3 linked regions of the Homo sapiens genome follow. The protein of the gene in region 3 interacts with the protein of the main gene of each other region in a pairwise test. Each region holds a gene or a part of one and is shown on either strand. Other genes may lie near its edges.

What was found. Proteins that work in one complex are often made in the same cells at the same time.
Region 1: the proteins of MTURN (region 3) and TNFRSF19 interact in binary tests that used the Homo sapiens proteins (3 or more experiments, as listed by UniProt).
Region 2: the proteins of MTURN (region 3) and SSX1 interact in binary tests that used the Homo sapiens proteins (3 or more experiments, as listed by UniProt).

Annotation. Positions count from the first base shown.
Region 1 is NC_000013.11:23,573,412-23,580,411, reverse strand, and holds part of TNFRSF19 (tumor necrosis factor receptor superfamily member 19 isoform 2 precursor), read right to left. Parts: intron 1,053-7,000; exon of another isoform or gene 883-1,052; intron 1-882. UniProt on the Homo sapiens protein: Can mediate activation of JNK and NF-kappa-B. May promote caspase-independent cell death.
Region 2 is NC_000023.11:48,250,625-48,258,391, reverse strand, and holds the start of SSX1 (protein SSX1), read right to left. Parts: upstream 3,001-7,767; 5' UTR 2,960-3,000; intron 2,342-2,959; exon of another isoform or gene 2,256-2,341; intron 1,171-2,255; 5' UTR 1,151-1,170; coding exon 1,082-1,150; intron 647-1,081; coding exon 532-646; intron 1-531. UniProt on the Homo sapiens protein: Could act as a modulator of transcription. Plays a role in spermatogenesis.
Region 3 is NC_000007.14:30,130,278-30,138,181, reverse strand, and holds the start of MTURN (maturin), read right to left. Parts: upstream 3,197-7,904; 5' UTR 3,046-3,196; coding exon 2,884-3,045; intron 1-2,883. UniProt on the Homo sapiens protein: Promotes megakaryocyte differentiation by enhancing ERK and JNK signaling as well as up-regulating RUNX1 and FLI1 expression. Represses NF-kappa-B transcriptional activity by inhibiting phosphorylation of RELA at 'Ser-536'.

The DNA.
Region 1 (7,000 bases), on a different chromosome or scaffold from region 3:
GTTTGGTTTTGTAGTCAAAGAAACTGTCATGGGGTAAAAACTACGTCTTCATACATATCTTGGGTTAAACTGTTTCAGTTAAAAGAAACACTGAACAATGGTGATGATTTTGTATGCATATTGAGTCCTTTATTAACATGCAAACAAATGACATGGGTTTCTTACAATAGTGAACGGAGACTGGATGACTAGTGCACTACCATCAAAACAGATCACAGAATTTTGATCCGCCAAACTTGATCTCCAGGAGTATATTAGCCAAATTTCTGTCCCATGAGATGGCATTACACGCATTGTAAGAGCTGGCTTTCTCACTCTCTAAATCTATCACAGGCTCTACTCATCAATATACTAATAATTCCTGCTGAACTCTAAGGAACTCTTTCCCACAGAAGGAATATACCCTGGGCCGCTCACAGACAACGCTCTCCCGCCGCTGGCGCTGGTCCGGGATGCGGCCCCGAGACCCCTGCAGCCGCGCGCTGGCTCAGGGGACCTCCGCAGGACGCGGGCGGGCGCCGGGGCCGGGTCGGGCTTGGGCAGAGTGACAGGCTCCCAGTCGTGAGCCTCACAAGCAGATCTATTTACAATATCCCGGATAGGAGTCCAGGTCGCGTCGCTCGCGTCGCCCGCGGGGACCCGGCGTGAATTCACACGCTCCCCTCCCACCGCCTCGCCGCCTGTCACGGCCCCGAGACCCGGTCAGCCCCTTCGGGGGTTCCCTTCGCCGCGCAGTACTCCGCCCGTGAGCAGCCCCCGCCTGCGCTCCTCCCTCCCTAGGGCGGCCGCCTCCACTCCCGGCTCCCACCCAGCGGGGATCCACCAGGGCGAGGGCTGAAGACCTCGCGGGACGCCGCGCGCCGGGGACAGCGACGCACCTACCTTCCCAGCCACCTGGGAGGCTGCAGGTCCGGGCCGGAGCCCGAGGCTCAGGGGCGCGCGGAGCAGTCCTGGTTAAGGCGCAGGGCGCGGGGTTGCATGGGGGTCCAGTCCAGCGTGCACACCGTGCACCTCCCAGCGCAGGGCTCCGCGCTCTCCCGTAGCCCGGCAACGGCCGCCACCCCAGAGCCCCGCCCACTAGGAGCCCCGCTCAGGGCACCGCCCACCCGGGCCCCGCCCTCACCGCGGCTCTCGCCGTGGCTCCGCCCCCGTCCAGAGCCCCGCCCCCAGCGCACACTGCGTCAGCCGGACTTGCTCTGCAGCTGGGTTCTTTGGAGGCCCCCACTCCGCGGCTACTGAAGCGGATGAGTGTGAGGCTGACTGGGGGCTTGGGGATGGGGGACCGGAGACCACCAAGAACATGGCTGTGTTGGGAAACTTTCCTTCAGAGCAGAGAGGGAGGGTTCCTTTCCGCCGGGGTGTTCCCCACCTTTCAGCCTTTCCCGCGTGGGCCCGCATCCCAGCCAGAGGGGATACGGCGGCCAGGTCTGCGCTGCTGCGCCTGAGCTCAGGTCGGCAGAGGTCGCAGACCTCGGCTCCTCAGCCGGCAGGGACTCGCAGGTGCGCGTTCCCACGGACGCCTCCCGGGGAAGCCCGAGTTCGCCTCCTGCAGGCCGGGAAGCACTCGCCCCGAGACGGCCGCACCCTCGCAGCGGAAGGGCGTCTGCACCACAGCTGTAGCACCAGCGCGTGCGAGGCGGGGCCAGGGCCGGGGACTCACTGGGCAGTTTTGCTGAAAGGGTTAAGAGAATCGCGTCTGTAAAATACTTTTCCACCAGTAGAATGCTGTAAAAGTGCAAGCAGTATTGTTCTATTCGTTCACCCAAGATACGGTGCATGACTTTGGTACCAAGGCATCCACCGTTTCTCACGTGTTGGTTTTGACTTCCCACTCAACTGCACTGTGTGGATGGACCCAAGTCCCTGTTTCTTGTCTATACCCCAAGGCCCACTGGAGCCCCTCCATCAGTATTTGTTGAATGAATGAGTGAATAGGTTGTTGTATTTAATTGCCCAAAAGCACAGCTTGTGATCCCAGGCTTCCAACGGCGTAGCACTATACTAGGTACTTGTGAACAATGTTAAAAATATTATTCCCGATGTCACACCTTGATAGAGGTTGTATATTTCAAATCTAACACATCCAGAATATAGATCCCAATAACGACTTATTGGTAAACGATTTCCAAATGATGTACGTTATCTAATTTGAACCTCAAGGCAAGTGTGTGCTTCCCTGTCCCATCTCCCAGCGGCTACCCGATCAGACTCCAGCCCTCAGTGCACATCACTACCATATTCATTCCCACATCCCGCTGAACTTCTTTATCTGTTTCCTTCCCCAGCTACACCTGGATCTCCCGAGGGCATCTCCTAATTCCTTGATATCCCGGGGCCTAGCACACGATGGATACTCAGCACTTCTAAGCTGAGTTACTGCATCTTCCTTTGCAAGGTCTCACGCAGTCCCCCATCGTCCTCTCTTTGTCTTGGTGCCCACCACCTCCTTCACCACCATGCAGACCCTCCCCACCCCTCACCACAGCACTGCCTCGGTCATCAACCCCGCTTCCCGCCTTTCATCACTGCTACTGTCAGGCTGAAGAGTCACAGGAGGTTCCTCACTGTAAAGAATGGATTCTGCGCTCCTTAGATTAGCATTCCGAGATGTCCAGGTGCAGCCCTACACCTATTTCCAGCCTTGCCTCGCCTCTGGAGCAGGCTTTATAAACTGCGCCGCGTGGCCCTTCCTTTGCTCTCTACTTCCTCTTCGTGCTCTCCCATCTTACCTCTGAGCTTTACCTACTTGTCTTACTCCAGTTTCAGCACCTCGCTCAAAAGCCACGGCTCTCACGAGTTTTCCCTCAATTCTGAGCCTATGTATTTCCTTGCTCCAAGGTTTGTGGCAATTTAGCACTTGCCCATTGTGTCCTGTATCATAAGATTCTGTGTACTAACTTTCTTCTTCAAGGAGTTAAAAACACTTTCAGAGAAGGGGCATATTTTGTTCCGATTTGTATCTCTGACAGTATCAATCATTCAAATAAATGTTCAACCAAAGCTTTCTGAGTGGAATTGAATCTGCCAGCTCAGGAACTACCTTCTCTGACTTCAACCAAATGTTCTTCTTCTCTCTGACCTCCTTTTGTCCTTAGAGACAGTAGTAACACATTACTCAGTTCATTAGTTCTTGAATCATTTTACGTGTTTTGACTGATCTTCCCGGTTAGCCTGTTAGCTTACAACAGAGAGAGAACCTATTGTTAGCCTGAATGGGCTTGGGCATCTGACAATCTGGTCCCAATGCCAACCTGTCATTCAGTAGTTGCATGACTTTGGAAAAGTTACTTAACCTCTCTAAGTTTCTGGTTCTCCATATGTAAAATGAGTTGCTTCATTGATGGTTGGTAAGTATTAATAGATAAGGTATTTAAAGTGCTTAGGCCAATGCCTAGCACTTACTAAATAGCCATTCTTAGTAGCAATATATCCTCTTACAATGCCTAGCATCAATCAATAAATGATCATTGACGGTGAGAAAAAGGACATTGAACCTCTGGACTCCAGCTGTTAGATTCATCTAATTCTTTAAAGAGACTCATTAAGTTAAACACAGTTGGCCCTCCACATCCATGGATTTTACATCATGGCTTCAACCAACTGCAGATTGAAAATATTTGAAAAAAAATGAATGGTTGTGTCTGTACTGAACATGTACACTTTATTTTGTCATTATTCCCTAAACAATATGGTATAACAACTATGTACACAGCATTGACATTGTATTAGATATTATAAGTAATACAGAGATGATTCAGAGCATATGCAAATTTATACCATTTTTTGTAAGGGACTTGAGCATTTGCAGATTTTGGTATCCAAGAGGGTGTCCTGAAAGCAGTCCCCCTCAGATGCTGAGGGAACAAACACTATAGTTCCCACTTTCCCTCATTTGAGTGTTGTATGATTTGGAGACAGTGTCTGAACAAAAACTCAGGCACACAATTGAGCACCATAGTAGTATAAAAAGAGTTCTGTGGGCCGGGTGCAGTGGCTCACGCTTGTAATCCAGGCACTTTGGGAGGCCGAGGCAGGCGGATCACCTGAGGTCAGGAGTTTGAGACCAGCCTGGCTAACATGGCGAAACCTCGTCTCTGTAAAAATACAAAAATTAGCCAGGCATGGTGGCAGGTGCCTGTAATCCCAGCTACTAGGGAGGCTGAGGCAGGAGAATTATTTGAACCCGGGAGGCAGAGGTTGCAGTGAGCCAAAATCACGCCACTGCACTCCAGCCTGGGGGACAGAGCAAGACTCGGTCTCAAAAAAAAAAAAAAAGAATTCTGTGATCCTTAGGCTCATGCAAAATGAAACTGGATGCTTGTAATTAGGACTGGGAGCATTTTACTTCCTTTAAAACACTGCATATCATTAATGGGTTAAAATTTTTACTGGAAAAGCAAAATTGCTATGACAATCTTGATAGAGGTGTTTGTTTTTAAGATTTATGTTAAAAGTTAGTTTTCTGAAGATAGTTTTAGCAATATCTGAGCTGACACAAAGTGCATTTGTTTAAAATATTTTTCCCCAAAAGTTGAACTAAGGAAAACTTGAAAAACCCCTGAAAGAATAGTTTCAGTGATAAATTAGCTCGCTGGTAGCAAAGCTAATGAAAAATTGCCTAACTTCTAGTCATTTCTAGTGTAAATCACTATTCCTTGGGAAAAAAGTGGAATAGAATGCAAGCTACAGGAGAATATGAAATTTTGTCTCTTTGGTTTACAGTTTCTGGCACATAGTAAGTTCTCATTAAAAATTTGTTGGATGAATTAGTAATTGAGAGTGAGAATCTCAAAGAGTAATAAAGTTTTCCAAATACAGTTAAGAAAATAAGTGGAGGAGGAACCCCCAAGACCTAGCTATTTAAGTAATTCCCGATACCCACTACTGCCAATTATAGACTATCAGCATGGGGCTGAGGGAGCACCGTGAGGCCAATGCCCAGTGACTTCCTGAATGCTGCACACCAAGTTAATTAACAAAGCTGGAATCAGAATCTGGGCTTTCTGTATCTTAACATAATCTTCACCATACCATGGGTGCGTAAACCAATATATATGAAAAACCCAAGGAGGCTATTTTTATAGCCCCCTCCTGTAAGTGGAGCTCAAGACACTTACAGAGCAAAGTTGTTACAAGTTGCAGCACTTGCACTGATCTTTGTGAGTTTGGCCCTGAGTACCTCATTGGCTAGACCCTTTTCATGAGTTCGATGAGGGAAGAGACAGTCCATTGACTCTCCTTCTCTCCTTCCTGATGAACATGGTGGACTCCCCGACCTAGGGCTGGCTTGAGGCCAGGCTGGCTGGGCAGCAGCCCATGGTGCTAAGCTATAGAGCCACCAAAGAATGGGGGGCATTTAACAGGATGGAGAAAACTATCTTTATCAGAACTCCTCTCAAAGACAGTGGGTTATGTTGGAAGGAATGGTTTTATGAAGTCATTGGAAACCCCCACATGACTTCTCCTTCCCCTTCTCATCAAAGAGAAAATTTAAGTCACAAAGGAGGGTTTTAAACTACCTACTTAATCTAAAGAAGTGAGTATTGATTTTGGCAAGTGGGTGGGTTTGAGGTAACAACTTTGGAGCCAAAGCTGAATGACTAGTGACAGTAGAGGAGAAATTAAAGCACAGCCAACACAGCCACCAGGGAGCCTCCCTCTGCCCTCCCATCACAGAGCTCACCCAGGTGGACAACGTTTTAAAGAACCATCCTTTAAAGGGGACAAAATCACTCATTCTTCCAGGGTGGCTTGGACTGGCCTTGCCATCACAGAAAGAGAATCCGACTAAACCAATGCCAGATGGTTGAGTTCAGTTCACTCCTGAAGCAGAGGGAGAACAGATTATGCCTTCATGGCTTAGGGAGGTCCTTTATGGCCATCCTGACAGAAAATACTATTAAAAATGTCTAATAGTTCTTACAAAATATATAAAAGGAAAAAAAAAAACTGGAGCCCATATTTTTGGCCAAAATTTTGGCTATAATGTTTGCTGACAGTCAAGTTCAGCTTTGTGTAATTCTTAAAAAGAATGAATCACCTAGCCCCAGAACAAAAAAAATGTAGATCACAATGCTGCCACTGAATTATTCCTATAATCTTGCACATGTTATTTATCCTTGCACAAGTACTTGATATTGAATTAATTGATAATGAGTGAATTAATAAATATTAGGTCATGTTAGTAATAATCTTGTATATGTAGGAATCCTAAAGAGGGTGATAAGCCCTATTATGAGGGCAGTTGTTTGGCCATGAGAGTCCTGTATTTGTATAAAATTTTATTAGTAACTAAATTAAAATTTTTCACACAAGATATAGATAGATAGATTTTTTTTTTTTTTTTTTTTGAGACAGAGTCTCACTCTGTCACCCAGGCTGGAGTGCAGTGGCGCCATCTCGGCTCACTGAAAGCTCTGCCTCCCGGGTTCACACCATTTTTCTGCCTCAGCCTCCCAAGTAGCTGGGACTACAGGCGCCTGCCACCTTGTCCGGCTAATTTTTTGTATTTTTAGTAGAGATGGGGTTTCACCATGTTAGCCAGGATGGTCTCGATCTCCTGACCTCGTGATCCGTCTGCCTCGGCCTCCCAAAGTGCTGGGATTACAGGCGTGAGCCACCGCTCCTGGCCCCAAGATATATTTTTTCAAGGAAGAAAAGCAAAGAGATAATGAAAACATGCTCAAGAGTCTTAACATAATCAAACATGATATGAAACACATATCATATCATGTTTGAAATGCACATTGAGTTTGTCAACTGAAGTTTCACAGAATCCCACTGGGAATTTCCCTGGAGGAAAATTAACCTTTAATTATTAAACTGTTTTTGGATGCCACTGGCATCATCTAAGAAAATATCAATTCCTTCAAAACACACAAATATGTGTTGATATAATGCCAAACTCGTATGTACACACACACACAGAGGCAAACACACAAATACATATATAATTCCACATCACATTGATGCATTAAACTTTTTGTGAAAATTATTTTAC
Region 2 (7,767 bases), on a different chromosome or scaffold from region 3:
AGAGACCCCCATATCTACAAATTATAAAATAAAATTAGTTGGGCATGGAGGCATGTGCTCATATCCTCAGCTACTCCATCGGCTGGGCAGAAGGATTGCTTGAGCCCAGGAGTTCGAGGCTGCATTGAGCTATGATTGCACTACTACACTCTAGCCTAGGTGACAGAGTGAGACTCTGACTCAAAAAAAAAAAAAAAAAAAAAAAAGGGAGAGAGAGAGAAAGAGACAAGCTGAGAGGAGGAAGGTAGGGTGGGAGGTGTGCTGCAATGCCACAGAGACAGCTGGGCTGATCAGAACAGACGCCTAAGGGAGAGAAAAGTGCAAGGTCCAGGTACAAGCTCCACTATGGCCAGTCCCTGCCCTCAGCTCTGACAGGATACAGAAGAGCAGAACCCCCAGAAGCTGCCTTGCGATTTTTCCCTGCACAAAAGGAAAATGTGGGGTACTTTCTGCAGCCTAAGAAGTAGCCAAAGCAGGAAAAGGGATGCTCATGTATCCCCAGACTTGTCTGTTCCTAGAACTTTCTGTTACCTAGTTTAGTCATGGCCTTATAGTTTCTCTTCATATACACATAGCTGATTTTCTCCGAGTATTTCATCTTTTTCCACTCTTTCTTAGAGAAGTATGTGGCAATATCATCAAAGGCCTAAAAAAAATAAAATAAAATTTGTCAGTGACTCAGCTAGGTATGTCTGCCATTCAGCTGGAGCCGCTTCCTGTGTGCTGGATCTGGGAAGTGAGGATGATAATCCGTCCTGGTTGATGCCATGGCTAACTGAGAGACCATGGGGGACCTACCCTAGCTTCTCCCGTGGCACACATTAGGGCTTTAATGCTGCTGTCTGGCTCTCTTCCCACCTTCCAGAATGGACTGAGAGTTACCAAATGTAGAGCAAGGTCAGAGACTTGTCTCCAGGGATGCTAGGTGATGACAGAACACAGGTGGGAGGCTCCCAAGGGTCCAGATCTCCCCCGAGACCCTGCTCCTTGTCCCCAGTACCTCTGTCCTCCCCTCCTCAGAAACCTGGTCACCCTACTCTGTCCCCTGGACCACTGCTCTGCCCCCTCCAGGTCACGTCACCTTGCTTCTCTTCTCTGATGCTTTAGCATCATCCCTGGGTCTCTTTGCAAAGGTGTCGTCTCCGTTCATGGCACCAGGAGCAGTCTCACCTGCAAGAGAAACAGCCTGAGACTTTCTAGCTACAGGACCCTTGGTCCTATGGAGGGAGAAATCAGTGAAGCCCGGCCACACTCAGTCACCTGGAATTAGGGGTTGCATTTCTCCATTCGGGGCTTACCTGTCCATGGGTAAGGACATGGAGAGAAGTCAGATGAAAACAGGGAGCCTGGAGTCTCTGGGAGAAGTATTGCTTGGGGATGACAGGTTTCCTAGCAGCCTTGAGTCTTTGGGAGGGGGTTGGCTAGTGTTGTTAGTAGTTTCCCTGGGGCTAGGCTTACCCTGAAAGATGTACAGACCCTTGCTGGGGAGGCAGGGACGTGACTGTGTAATTTTATTGAATGGGGGCGTTCTGACACCCCCACTCAATAAATAAAGGGAGGGAAGTGAGTCCCAGACATAACGTGGTCTTTCTGGTGATGGATCTGATCAGGCAGAGGGATGGGGGGGTTCTGTTCTGTTGAAGAGAAATGACCTTCACTAATATGAACAGATTTAGAAGCTATTACTGGGTTATTTGTAAATTATTAGAAGGAAGAGAGCTAGAATCTCTGAGATTACAAGAGCCTGCCATCACTTAGAGAAAATGTGGGGTGTTTCAATTTGCAGCAATCGGCCAGGCGCAGTGGCTCATGCCTGTAATCCCAGCATTTTGGGAGGCCGAGGCGTGCAGATCTCTTGAGCCCAGGAGGTTGAGACCAGCCTGGGAAACATAGCAAACCCCTCATCTCTACAAAAAAAAAAAAAAAAAAAAAAAAACAACCACACAAAAAATTAGCTGGGGGCGGTGGCACAGGCCTATAACATCTCAGCTCTTTGGCCAAGGGGGGGCGGATCGCTTGAGCCCACGAGGTTGATACCAGCCTAGCCAACCTAGAAAAACCCTCTACTAAAAAAAATAAAATAAAATAAAAAGTATTAGTGGGGGCGGGGTGGTGCTCGCCTGTAGTTCCGAGGCCGAGGCAAGAGGATCTCTTGAGCCCAGGAGGTTGAGGCCAGCCTGGCCAACATAGCAAAACCCCATTTCTACTACTAATAATAACAACAAAAATAATAACATCAGCGAGGTGGTTCTTGCCTGTAGTTCCGAGGCCGAGGTGGGAGGATCACTTGAGCCGAGGAGGTCAAGCCCAGTTCGGCCAACATAAGGAAACCCTGTCTCTACTAAAAAGAACAACAACAACAAAACTAGCAGGGGCGGAATGGCACACATCTGTAGTCCTGAGGCCAAGGTGTGAGGATCGCTTGAGCCCAGGAGGTTGAGGCCAGCCTGGCCAACATAGTGAAACCTGGTTTCTACTAAAAAAAAAAAAAAAAAAAGCATGGGCAGGATGGTGCACTTCTGTAGTCCCAGGGCCGAGGCGGAAGGATTGCTTAAGCCCAGGCGGCAGAGGCCAGCCTGGCCAACATAGCAAAACCGTCTGTACTAAAAAAATAAAAAATAAAAAAAATTAGTGAGGGTGGGGTGGTTCGTGCCTGTAGTCCCGAGGCCAAGGCGGGAGGATTGCTTGAGCCCAGGCGGTTGAGGCCAGCCTGGTCAACATAACAAATCCCCGTCTCTACTAAAAAAAAAAAAAAAAAAACAGGGGTGGGATAATACAGGCCTGTAGACCCAAGGCCGAGGCGGGAGGATCCTCCATGATGATCGTCCTGAAAGGCATTAGTTGTCTTTCAGTCCTCAAGATTTTCGGAACCCCAAGCACTTGACGGCCCTACAGAGGCTTCCTCCTTTTCTATCTGCCCCGATTAGCCCATCTAGGGTGTCCCTTAAAGAGAACCTACTTCAGAGACAAAGCAGTGGTTGCGAGGTCGGCAGCAGTGGTGGCGAGTTGGCAGCAGTTGGTGACAAAGTGTGGCTGGAGGAGGAGAAAATATTCTGCAATGTCATTGCTCCAGGATGATGGACCAATCAGGGCAGTTAGTGAACTCCATCTGGCCAATCAGAAGTCAGAACAGTAGGCGGGACAAGCCAAGCTGATGTGGGGTCTATCAGTCTAGGCTCTAGGGACAGAACCTTCTCAAAATGGAGGCAGAAACTCTGACTTTCCCGCCTAAAGCATCCCCTGGGATTGGCTACTCCAAGTTCAGAGTACGCATGCTCTGATTTTCTCTTTGGAGTCTTCCCAAATCAGAGTACGCATGCGCTGATTTTCTCTTTTCATTTTTCCTATCCCTCCCCACCTCCTCGGTGGTGCATTGTTATCCAGTTTTAATAAGGAGTGTATATGAAGCAGGTCATCATCTCAAATCCTTCCTGTCAGTTTCTATCTTTTTCAGGTATGGGATTTTTTCCTAGGAACTCTGTAGTGACGTAAGAAATTTGGGCCGGTGCGGCGGCTCACGGTTGTAATCCCAGCACTTAGGGAGGCCACAGCTGGAGGATCACTTGAACCTGGGAGGCAGAGGTTGCAGTGAGCCATGATCATGCCACTGCACCCCACCCTGGGCAACAGAGCAATACCCTGTCTCTTTTCTCTACAAAAAAAATAAATAAAATTAGCGAGGTGGGGTGGTGTGCCTGTAGTCCGTTACTCAGGAGGCTGAGGTAGGAGGATAGCTTGAGCCCAGGAGTACGAGGTTGCAGTGAGCCATGATCTGGCTACTCCTGCCTACCTGGGCCACAGAGCGAGATCTTGTCTTTAAAAAGAGAGAGAGAGAGAAAGAGAAAGAAAGAAAAATTTCAATGAGCCAGTCCCAGTGGCTCATGCCTGTAATCCCAACACTTTGAGAGGCTGAGGCAGGAGGTGGAAGGATCACTTGAGGCCAGGAGTTCCAGAACAATCTGGGATACATAGTGAGACCCCCATCTCTATAAAAAATTTTTAAAAAAGAAATTTAAACAAAAAAAAACACTTCTACACTTCCATATATGTTTTTTTCTAAAAGACCAAAGAAGCAGAAATATATTTTACCCATTGATATTAATAATATTTATAATAATAGTATTAAAAAGAGTATGTAATTAGGGCCCACTGTGTTCATCAGGGAGCTCATAAGTCAATTTGTCTAAGAAGTTTCCCCTACCCCCATCCCTAGTACCTCCAACAAGTCCCCATTCCTCTCTGGGCTTTCCACCTACAGCCCTGATCTCTCTAAGATCCTCCCAGGATTACAGCAAGCTCTCTTAGGGCAGGAACAGAGCAATGGCCCTTGAGCCCAGCACAAAGCCTTTTATGTGCATCTTCCCATTAATTTTCACAACCTTCTCTGGAGTTAAATACTATTATCATCCCCAGTATGCAGATGTTGAGACTGAGGCTCAAGAGAATTAAGCAGTCTGCTCAAAGTCACATAGTCAGTGGGTGACAGAGCTGGGATTCACCCCCAAGATAGAATTGAGTCCAAAGTCTGTGCTTTTATTTATGTATTTATTTATTTTTAATTAAAATAATTTTTTTTTAGAGATGGGGTCTTGCTATGTTGTCCCTGCTGATCTGGAAGGAACTGCTGGCCTCAAGCAATCCTCCTGCCTTGGCTTCCCAAAGCACTGGGATTACAGGAGTGAACCATCCCACGCCCGGCCTCAAAGTCGGTGCTTTTAATTACTCTTCTATATTGCCTCGACTACTTGTTGAATGAATGAATGCATCTTACAACTGCAAAGGTTCTTTAACATAATTTACATAACTCCTTACAATCACCCCATATTCCCTCTGACTGCTGTAACAAATTACCGCAAACTTTGTGGCATAAACAACATCAATTTATTCTCTCACAATTCTGGAGCCCAGAAATCTGAAATCAGTTTCACTGAGTTGAAATCAAGTTGTCAGCAGGGCTGTAGTCCTCCAGAGGCTCTAGGAGAGAACCTGTTCCTTGCCTCTTCCAGCTTCCCGTGATTGCCAGCATTTCTTGGCTTGTGGCTTGATATGGATTGGCTCTGTGTCCCCACCCAAATCTCATCTCGAATTGTAATCCCCACAGATTACAAATCCCCACGGGGGTGGTTTTCCCCATGCTGTTTTTGTGACAGTGAGTTCTCATGAGGTCTGATGGTTTTACAAGCGTCTGGCATTTCCCCTGCTTGCATTTCTGTCTCCTGCTACCATGCGAAGAAAGTCTTTGCTTCCTCTTCACCTTTGGCCATGATTGTTTCCTGAGGCCTCCCCAGCCATGCAGAACTGTGAGTCAGTTAAATCTCTTTCTTTTATAAATTACCCAGTCTCGGGCAGCTCTTTATAGCAGTGTGAGAAGGGACTAATATATGGCTGCATCACTCTAATCTCTACCTCCATGGTCATTGCCTTCGTTTGTTTTCTGTTACTATAATGGAATACCACAAACTGGGTAATTTATAAAGGATAGAAGTTCATTTGGTATACAGTTCTAGAGGCTAGGAGTCCAAGAACATGGCGCTGGCATCTGGTGAGGGTTGTGTCATGATGGAAGGATGAAAGGCAAAAGCAAGTGCAGGAGACAGACAGAGAAAATGTGACTAAGCTCCCTTTTATAACAAACCCAATCTCGTGATAACTAATCCACTCTTATGATAATGGCATTAATCACTTCCTAACAGCCCCACCTCTTAATATTGTTAACAATGGCAATTAAATTTCAACACAAGTTTTGGTGGGGACGTTCAAACCATGGCAGGCTTACTGCCTTCTTCTCTTCTGTCTGTGTCAGATCTCCCTGCCTTAATCTGATAAGGACACTCATTATTACATTTAGGGCCCACCCAGATAATCCAGACAATCCAGGAGAATCTCCCCATCTCAAGAGCTTTAACATAATTACTTTTTTTTTTTCGAGACGGAGTCTCACTCTGTTGACCAGGCGAGAGTACAGTGGCATGATCTTGGCTCACTGCAACTTCTGCCTCCCGGGTTCAAGCAATTCTTTGCCTCAGGCTCCTGCATAGCTGGGATTACAGGTGCCCGCCACCATACCCAGCTAATTTTTATATTTTTTTTAGCAGAGACGGGGTTTCACCATCTTGGCCAGGCTGGTCTTGAACTCCTGACCTCGTGACCCACCCGCCTCGGCCTCCCAAAGTGCTGGGATTATAGGCGTGAGCCACCACACCTGGCCAACATAATTACTTTTTTTGTTGTAAGCTAACACTCACAGGTTCCAGGTGTTACTATGTTGCTATCTTTTGGAGGGGCGTTGTTCAGTCTACCACAGCCTGCCCTCTGGCCCCCAAGTATTCACATCTCTCCCACATGCAAAATACATGCACCCCATCCCCAAATCCTCAAATGTCTCAAACCGTGCAACATTAGCTGAAGTCCAACATCTTATCCATATAAGATCAGCTCAAAAGTACCAAATCTCCTCATCTAAAACAGATATGGATGAGACTCTGGTTATGAAACATCCTGGGGCAAAATTCTCCTGCCGTGAATTTGTGACACTAGAAAGCAAGTTATTTATTCCAAAAATAAAGTGGCGAGACAGATGTAGGATAATAGTTACAGATATTTCTATTTCAAATGGGAGAAAATGGAAGGAAGGAGTTGCCACTTCCAACCATTTTGAAATCTAGCAGGACAAATTCCATTTGGTTTCAAGGACTCAGAATAATCCTCTGTAGCTTGAAGCTCTCCCCTCTCCCATCGCCCTCCTCTCAGAATGTATGTCATAGTGATTCACACCTTTAGACCAGCAGGTCCTATGTGTATCTTCCCAGATAATATCATTTCTAGACTGGCTATGGCTGAGCATAGTGGAAGAGCTCCTTGAGTCACGTGCCTAATCTCTTCAGCACTAGCAAACATGGCCACATTCTTGACTTTCTCTCTAGAGGATACCTTCCTGACAGTGCCTCTCCTAATTTTAGTGTCTTTTGCAATCTTGATAGGCTTAGAATTTCCCTGGATCCTTTTTGTTTAACAGTCCTTTCCTCAGTTTATCCTTTTCCTCTAACATTTTACTAGAACTTGAATTGGAGTCCAATATAAAAATGAAAAATTATGGGACTAAGACTGGGGATAAAAAATGATGGAATCTCTAGGCAAGTTGCTGAGGGTTTATGAAGGATGAGCCTTGGGAATGGAGTCTTATATATGATCAGATTGGTTGTGATTGAAAAGAAATTGTTCATCCGTTTATCTAAAAATCGACCATTAGTGTCAAGGGTGCAATGAAGCAGGGCGAGTCTACTCCTCTCGTTTTGAATTAGGTTTTCTTAACATGTTGATCTGTTTTTTCTTTATCTTTTAAACAATCAGTCTAAAAAAAGGGGATTTTGTGTTTTAAGATAGTTTCCTAACTGCATTTATTAGGTTTTGGTTTTTGTTTTTGTTTTCTGAGATGGAGTCTTCCTCTGTCGCCCAGGCTGGAGTGCAGTGGTGGGATCCAGCCACCGTAGTAAGCAAGGTTGCTTACTGCAACCTCCACCTCCCAGGTTCAAGTGATTCTTGTGCTTCAGCCTCCTGAGTAGCTGGGATTACAGGTGCCCACCACCACGCCCGGCTAATTTTTGTCTTTTTAGTAGAGACGGGGCTTCACCATGTTGGCCAGGCTGGTCTCGAACTCCTGACCTCAGGTGAGCCGCCTGCCTCAGCCTCCCAAGGTGCTGGAATTACAGGCGTGAGCCACCATGCCCGGCCTTTTGCTGTTGTTGCTGTTAAGACAGTTTCACTATT
Region 3 (7,904 bases):
ATTACGCCACTACACTCCAGCCTGGGCGACAGAGCAAGACTGTCTCAAAAAAAGAAAAAGAAAAAAAAAGTATGGCATAGAGGGGTTAAATAACTTTCCCAAGGCACACAAATACGGGGAGCTGAGGTGCAAACCCAAGTAGTCTGATCTACAGCCTGTGTGCTTAACCACCACACCACACTGCTTCCTAGACAAGTAAAAATTGCCCCAGGAACATGAAGGCAGAGACCCTATTTGTATTCTAGATAGCACTGGCCTGGCACAAAGTAAACCCTCAATAAATGTTTGTTGAATGAATGAATGAATGATGTGGAAATACTTTTGTAAATTGAGAAATGCTCATGTAGACATTCTTATTGCTAAGTCCTTCAACTAATAGAAATTCCATTGATCTCACACTTTTGTCTAATGCTTAATACATTTTCCAGGGAAAAAGAAAAGAACTAAGGCAGGACACTTATTAGAGGCAAACAGTAGCTTGACAAACCTGGCCTGGGACAGATTCAAGAGGTCCGGCTAGGAAAACTCCCGAGGTTGGCATCTTGTCCATTAGAGCCTCCAGAACTTGGAGAAAGTTCCATTCTACCCAAGGAATCATCTGCCCACCCCCATCCTCTATCTTTCTATCTATTCTATTTAAATTGTCAGTTTACATGACACTTTCAAGCATTTTTCTCATGCAGATGGGAAAATATTTAAAATCTGGGTGGCCTCAAGAGAAAGGCCTGATACAAATAATATAATACTTCTTACTTCTGAACGATGGTTGGATACACATATTCATGGCAAGAGAACAGCCTTTTGTCTTCCTGGCCCACTTACTGTCTTTGGAGTCATTTCTTTGGGTATGGCCTGGGCGGTCCCAGCAGGAAGGCTGTGTGGGCTTCTCCCCAGTGAAATCCAGAACCATGAGCCATTCTTGCCCTGTTTCACACGGTCAGGAGGGAGAAAGGGCGCTGGCAGATGAAGGAAGCCCAGAGCTGGAAGGGACCCTAGCCAAACCCTAACATTTTACAGTCAGCTGGATTCTGGTGCCCTTTCCACTGTATCCTGGGGGCTTTCTCACACTTTTGCAATGGAGTGAATCCCTTTTTAATGATCTCCCACTCCTTCCAAAAAGAACACTTATTTACTTACTTTACCTACAGTTAAGATGGGCTTACAGGCATTAATATTATTGTTCAGTTGGCTCTTCTGGAGGTATTCTGATTAGCCCCATTTTACAGGTGGGAAAACCAAGGCTCTTTAAAAAATGAGACAAGCTCTAAATTCTGGGAAACCCCAGGTCTCTAACCCCAAATTTGTGGGGCTCTTGCTGTGTGTTAGGGACTATTCGGTGCGTTACCTATATGAACGCCTGGGTGCTGGCATTATTATACCTATTTTTTTGGATGTGGAAACTGAGCTCAGGGTGGGTATTTGAGCACAGTCACAGAGCCAGAACTCAAATCTGGCTGTCACACAAGGCCATCCCTCTTCTGGAGTGCCACTTGTGGAATGCCCAGGTGGATCCCTGCCCTCCTCAGGGGGTGCGTGTGGGCGGAGGGAATGCTTTATCGGCCAGGCATACATAAGCCTTCACCTCTCCAGGACCAAGAAAGGCGGTCTTGCAGTCTCCCTAACTCCTTCGCGAACTTCCCGTAGGTGGTCAGGGCGCTCGGCGGCAGGACCACGGCCCAGCTTTGTCTCCCCCACCTGAGGAGCGTGCACCAGGCCGCGCCCCGCACCACCCCACCTCCGCCCACAAGGCCCGCGACCACACGGTCACCCGCGCCCACGGCCGCCTCCATCTTACATTTGGGGATCATTATTTATTCCCCGACCTTGGAAACACTTCATGAGCACCGTGCTCGCCCTACTCCACCCCTCCCACCCCGACTCCCCTGCCCTCCGCATCCCCTTCCTCAACTGCCAGAGTCGGGATCCCAGGTGGGTGCAGGATTCAAAGTGGAAGGTTTGGACACCGCAGTCCCAGTTCCCGGTCCCTCTGAGCCGGGGCTGAGGGGATTCCCCGTCATCTGGAAAAGCCAACGGGCTTCAGCAGGGCCAGGGCACCGCCTCGGCTGGAGAGAACCCGCCCGGGCCACACACACCTCTCGGGCAGCTCAGAGAGGCAGCGAGGGCAGCGCGGGGGCAGGGGGAGAGGCGTGCCGCGTGTGCGCGTGAGTGTGCGCGTGTGAGGGTGAGGGTGTGAGCATGTGTGTGTGTGTGTTGGGGTGTATGCGCAGGCGCGCGTGCGTATTAAGATCCGGGGTGTAATTCCGCAAAGAAGGTCCAGGAGATCGGGCATCGCTAGTATGGACAGAGCTTTGTGTCCAAACAGGCAGTGCAAGGACTAACCCGCGAGGGCGGGGAGTGGGGTTCTCCCGGGAGGGGCAATGCGAGGAGCCGAGGCTGGGCACCGGAGGGGAGCGGGATTCCTATCCCGGACGGGACGCCTGGATGTGGGAAGCTCCGGACCTGGGCTCCTGCCGGAGGGTCCGTGCGCCCCAGACCCGGCTGGTCCGACGCGGGTGACACCCACACCCCAGGGATGCTCCATGCCAGGCACCGCGCACGGGCCGCGAGGTCGGGTTCCCGAAACGGCGCCCGCAGCAGCGGGGAGAGGAGTGGCCTTTAGGGGGACGCCACACCTCCCGCCCCGACCCGGCTCCCCGGATCCTCCGGGCGCCTTGCCCGCCGCCCACCGGGCCCCACCCGGGCAGCGGAGCCCGCACCGCCCGGCCCGGGGCTTCCCCGGCGGAGCACGCGGGGCGCGGGGCGCGGGTTACGGCCCCCCACTCTGCGCCCACCGCCGCCCACCGCGCGGGAGCTCGGGCGCAGGGACGCACCGCCGCGTCCACACTCCCGCCGGCTCCGGCGGTCCCTCCTCCAGGCACTCACAAAATTGTCGCCGCAGCCGTTGTCCGGACACAGCACATAGAAGGAGACGCCGGGGTCGGCGTAGAAATCCATCCTGCGTTCGGTCTCCTCGGTGGCGATGAGCTCGAAGGGCGTGTTGGAGCACCATTTCTCCGCAACGTCGGCCAGCTGCTGGAAATCCATCGCGGCCCCGCGCCCGCCTCCCGCCGCCGCCCGCCCTCCCGCTCCTAGGCGCCCTCCTCCCGGGCGGGCAGCGCGGCGCTCGGCTCGGCCTGCGCGGGCTCCTCCGGGGCCGGGCTGGGCCGGCTGGGACTGTTTACATGCGGTGCGGAGTGGGGCGGGCGGCGGCCGGGGACAGCGCGGCGCCGCGCCCGCGGCTCCTCCTCCGCCCCGCCTCCCCCCGCCCCCTTGCGGGCCGCCGTGGGGGTTGGCGCGGCCGGGCCGGGACGCGGGGCGGCGGGAGGAGCGGCCGGCACCCCCGCGGGCGCCCGGATTTTCCTGGGCGCTCCCGCCCCCCCTTTATTTTTAAACAAACCCGGAGCATCCCGGGGCCCTGGCCATCGCGGTGCCGCCCCGGGCCGTGACGTCATGGGCCCCAGCCAATCACCGGAGCCTGAGACCGCGCCGCGGCTTGCGAGCCCGGTGACGTCACAGCGCGAGCCTGGAATCCGCAGCTCCGCGGGTTACCTGGAAGCGGTGCGAGCGCCCAATACCTGGTTAGCGTTTCTGTGGAGTTAGAAAGCCCAGGAAGCGTTTGCCCAAATGCGATTTAAATGCAAGGGAGGCCATAGAACTGCAGATAACTTGGACCTTGTCTGGGGCTAGCAGTGGAGGAGCTGAGAAAATCTAAGGAAAAGGGAGCTTTTCTTTTTGCAGAAACCAAAGTTCTGTTCTCCGATTGATTTAAGGGAATGTGTCTTCTTAATGCATTTATCAGACACTAATATGAATGTTCACTTGCAAAGGGCGTGTGTGATTTTTTATTTGCGTTACGTAAAGCTGAATATTTCTTAGAAATGAGCCTCATAAGACTGGCTTCAGTATTATTCAGCTTGAATTCACATTGCATAACCTAAAAAGGTCAAGAGGATAAAGCACATTTTAAAACAAGAGTGTGTGGCCCAACGATTGCACCTGTTGAGTGCTCACTGGCTGCCATATACTGGACAGGCATTACTGGATTGCAGAAAATGCACTAGGGTCCTCGCCCTCAGGACTTGAACACTACAAACACAGACACGTTATAAACATTCAGCCAGCTTTTTTCTGTAAAGTGTGTCTTCTGAACCAGGCACTGTGCACGAATTTACATTCCCACCAACACGTATATATGTTTCCTTTTCTCTGCACCCTCACCAACATCTGCTGTTTTTTGACTTTTTAATCATAGCCATTTTGACTGGTGTGAGATTGTATCTCATTGTGGTTTTAATGTGCATTTCTCTGATAATTAGTGGATGTTGAGCATTTTTTCATATGTTCGTTGGCCACTTGTATGTCTTTTTTGAGAAATATCTGTTCATGTCCTTTGCCCACTTTTTAATGGGTTTTTTTTTTTTCTTGTTGAGTTGTTTGAGTTCCTTGTAGATTCTGGATATTAGTCCTTTGTCAGATGCGTAGTTTGCAAATATTTTCTCTCATTCTGTAGGTTGTCTATTTACTCTGTTGATTGTTTCTTTTACTGTGCAGAAGCTTTTTAGTTTAATTAAGGCCCATTTGTCTATTCTTGTTTTTGTTGCACTTCCTTTGGGGTTTTAGTCATAAATTATTTGCCTAGGCCAATGTTGCAAGGAACTGAATTCTGCCAACAACCCGAATGAGCTTGAAAAGCAGATTTTTTTCTCAAACTTGTTGTCTTTTCCAGACAAGAACTGAGCCTGACTATTACCATGATTGCAGCCTTCGCAGAACCTGAGCGAGAACCCAGTGATGCCATGGCTGTGCTGGGACTTCCGACTTTCAGAACTGTGGGCTATTAAATGGGTGTTGTTTTAAGCTGTTAGGTCTGTTTAAATTCTTCATGCAGCAGTAGAAAACTAATACACAGGACAATGAAGGAGACAGGCACATGAATATAAAAATGCAATATGCTGTTGTAAAGTTACAAAATGGTCCTTAAAAAAAAAAAGTATGGGTGTCTCCAGATAGCACAAGCTTCCTTGCAGTTTTACCTGGCACCACCATTTAAAGCATAATATGTGTTCCAAAAATGAATTCCTTAAATTGGAGATGAAAATATGAAAAATACATTCCTTTTTTCCTTTTTCGGGAAAGAAGGAGTTTTTTTTTTAATCCATGTGTTTTAAAATGTATCAGTCAAATTTGCTCCAAGTGATGTGATCAGAATTATGAAGTTATGTTTATTTAACAAATAGTTTTTGTCAGAAAATGAAAAACTCTTATGAAAAATAAAATTTTGGGTACAAAGCAATTGGTCAATGAAATGGATACCGTTGGGTTTCCTTAGAAATGCACTGAGAGCAACAGCAAAAGCTTCAGAACTCCATGTCTGCATTGATTCCTCCCTCTGCCATTTTAAGTTTTATGTGCATCTGCAACTTCCTTCATTGCTCGGAGCTCAGTTTTCTTTTCTGAAAACAGGGACAACAGTGAGATAAAGTATATAAAGTCCTTATCCCAGAACCTAGCACATAGTAAGAACTCAGTAAATGCCATTATTACTCTTAATCTACTTCTTAGGGATGATGTGTAAGAAGATCAGCTAATGAATTTTTAAAGTGAAATTCAGGAGTGATATGACTGGTAATATTGGTCACAGATGAACCTAAATCTCATTTTTTTTTCCAAGTCTTTAGAGCAGGGTTTCTCAGCAGCAGCACTATTGATATTTGAAGCCAAAAATTCTTTGTTGTTGGAGGCTGTCCTGCACATTGCAGGATTTTTAGCCACATTCCCTGGCCTCCACCCACTGGATGCCTGTAGCATCTCCCTCTACCCTCCCCTCTCTCCACTGTGACAAGCAAAAATTTCTCCAGACATTGCCAAATGTCCCCTGAGTGCAAAATTACCCCTACTTGAGAACCACAGATTTAGAGAGAAAAGTCTTGCAACAGTCGTGTTTTGGTCATTTTTACTAACTAGTGGAAAGGGTATGCACATAAAGCAGCTGAAATTCATCCTGGAAAGTTCATCTGCAGAAGTTGCTTGAAATTTTGTTTCCTTAGAACAACTGGTAAAGCCACCAGTTGCTTAGCTAAGAAGATCATAAACCTTTGCCCTGCCTCCCTCCTGTTTGGGGAGAGTCCTGTGAGGCATCCCAGGTTGTAGGGGTGTATTTAGGCCTCATGCACAGGGCAGTGGTCATTTCAGAACTCTAGCCAGGTGTTTTGTGCAGCCAGTAGGTGAGGAAACACCAGGGCTACCCATACCCCCTTTCTTGTGTTCCCATAGCCTTTGGCCATGGTTTGGAAGTAGAAGGAAAATTAAAACTTCTCCCCAGCCAGGCGTGGTGGCTCACACCTGTAATCCCACCACTTTGGGAGGCCAAGGTGGGTGGATCACCGAGCCCAGGAGTTTGAGACCAGCCTGGGCAACATGGTGAAAACCTGTCTCTACTAAAAATACAAAAATTAGCTGGGCATGGTGGCATGTGCCTGTAGTCCCAGCTACTTGGGAGGCTGAGGTGGGAGAATCCCTTGAGCCCTCGAAGTCGAGGCTGCAGTGAGCCATGATCACACCACTGCCCTCCAGCCTAGGTGACAGAGGGAAACCCTATCTCAAAAAACAAAACAAACAGACAAAAAAACTTATCCCCACCAGTAGGCAGAGTTGTACAGTCTTCATTGTATTTAAGGAACGTTTCTGTTCATTTATAGAAATCTGGACTTTGCTGTCTCTGAAAATCACCATTTGCCTTTGGGAGATGTGTGTTGGCAAGAAGAGGAGACATATTCAAACCCCACTGGCTAGGACATCAGGAGCTCAGTATGGAATGCAAAGGCCACCCTAGACTGTCCTGCTAATGCTGACTCTTCTGCCCATCTCTGTTTTGAAGTTCTCCATGGCTTTTATTCTAGTGTAAGTTTGATGTTAACATATAATTTGACCTTTGATTCACTCCTATATTGTAAGTCCGTTAAATTAGCCCTAGTTTTTGATAAATCTGCTCCATCCACATAGCCTTGTGGTTATGCAGTAGGAGGAGGTAGGCAGAGAGGGAAGCGTAGCTGGTTCCACATTCACCCTTCACCTGAACGCAAGGTCGTCTCATTGTATCAAGAGGGACTGTAGACCCCAGGTTCCAGGAGACGGTGGTCAGGAGAGAGGTGTTTGATTTGTCACAGTTGTGATGGGAGAGGTGAAAAGACCATAGGATCTGGAGAAGTAACTCCCAGGAGAGCAACACAGGAGGGATGAGAGCTGTCTTCTCCCTGCACTGTGCTCCAGAACAGTGAGCCCAGCAGTGGGGCGGGGAGGATAAGTAGAGGGCAGACATGAGTTAAGCCTGCGCCATAGTTTATGTGTCACTGCAACTAGAGTCTGAAAGAAAATCAAGTTGGAAGATCAGCGAAAAGTTGAAGATCTATATAAATGAGTCATTGTGATTTACCCCAACTGCCCAGTAAAGCTCTGGAAAAGGATTTCCTTCAGCCTTCCTACAAAATTCATTCTGAATTTTGTTTCTGAATCTTCCAAACTTAGTTTTTACAAAATTATTTCTTTTTTGGACATTCCTCTGAAAGGTTTGGATGTAGAATTTGAGCGAGTTGGGGTTACATTTTGGCTACAATTGCCTTCAAAACATGCCTAGCTGATCACATTCACCTGGTAAACATTTTCCTTTTATATATATCAAAGAAACAGAAATACTTATGATTTAGTTTTTAGCTTCTTTATTCATTTGAACACTTCAATATTCTGTCTTCTTCAATGATTCCCCCTTGCCCGTATTTTCAGCTGGAACAGTTTCTCATTTTCCCTATTTCTGAACACTTTCAGGGGCTTCCTTCAGTGAAGCCCAACACACAAAACGTCCCTTTCAGCAAAATCTCAGCGGTGGTGCTAAGGGACTAACACAGACT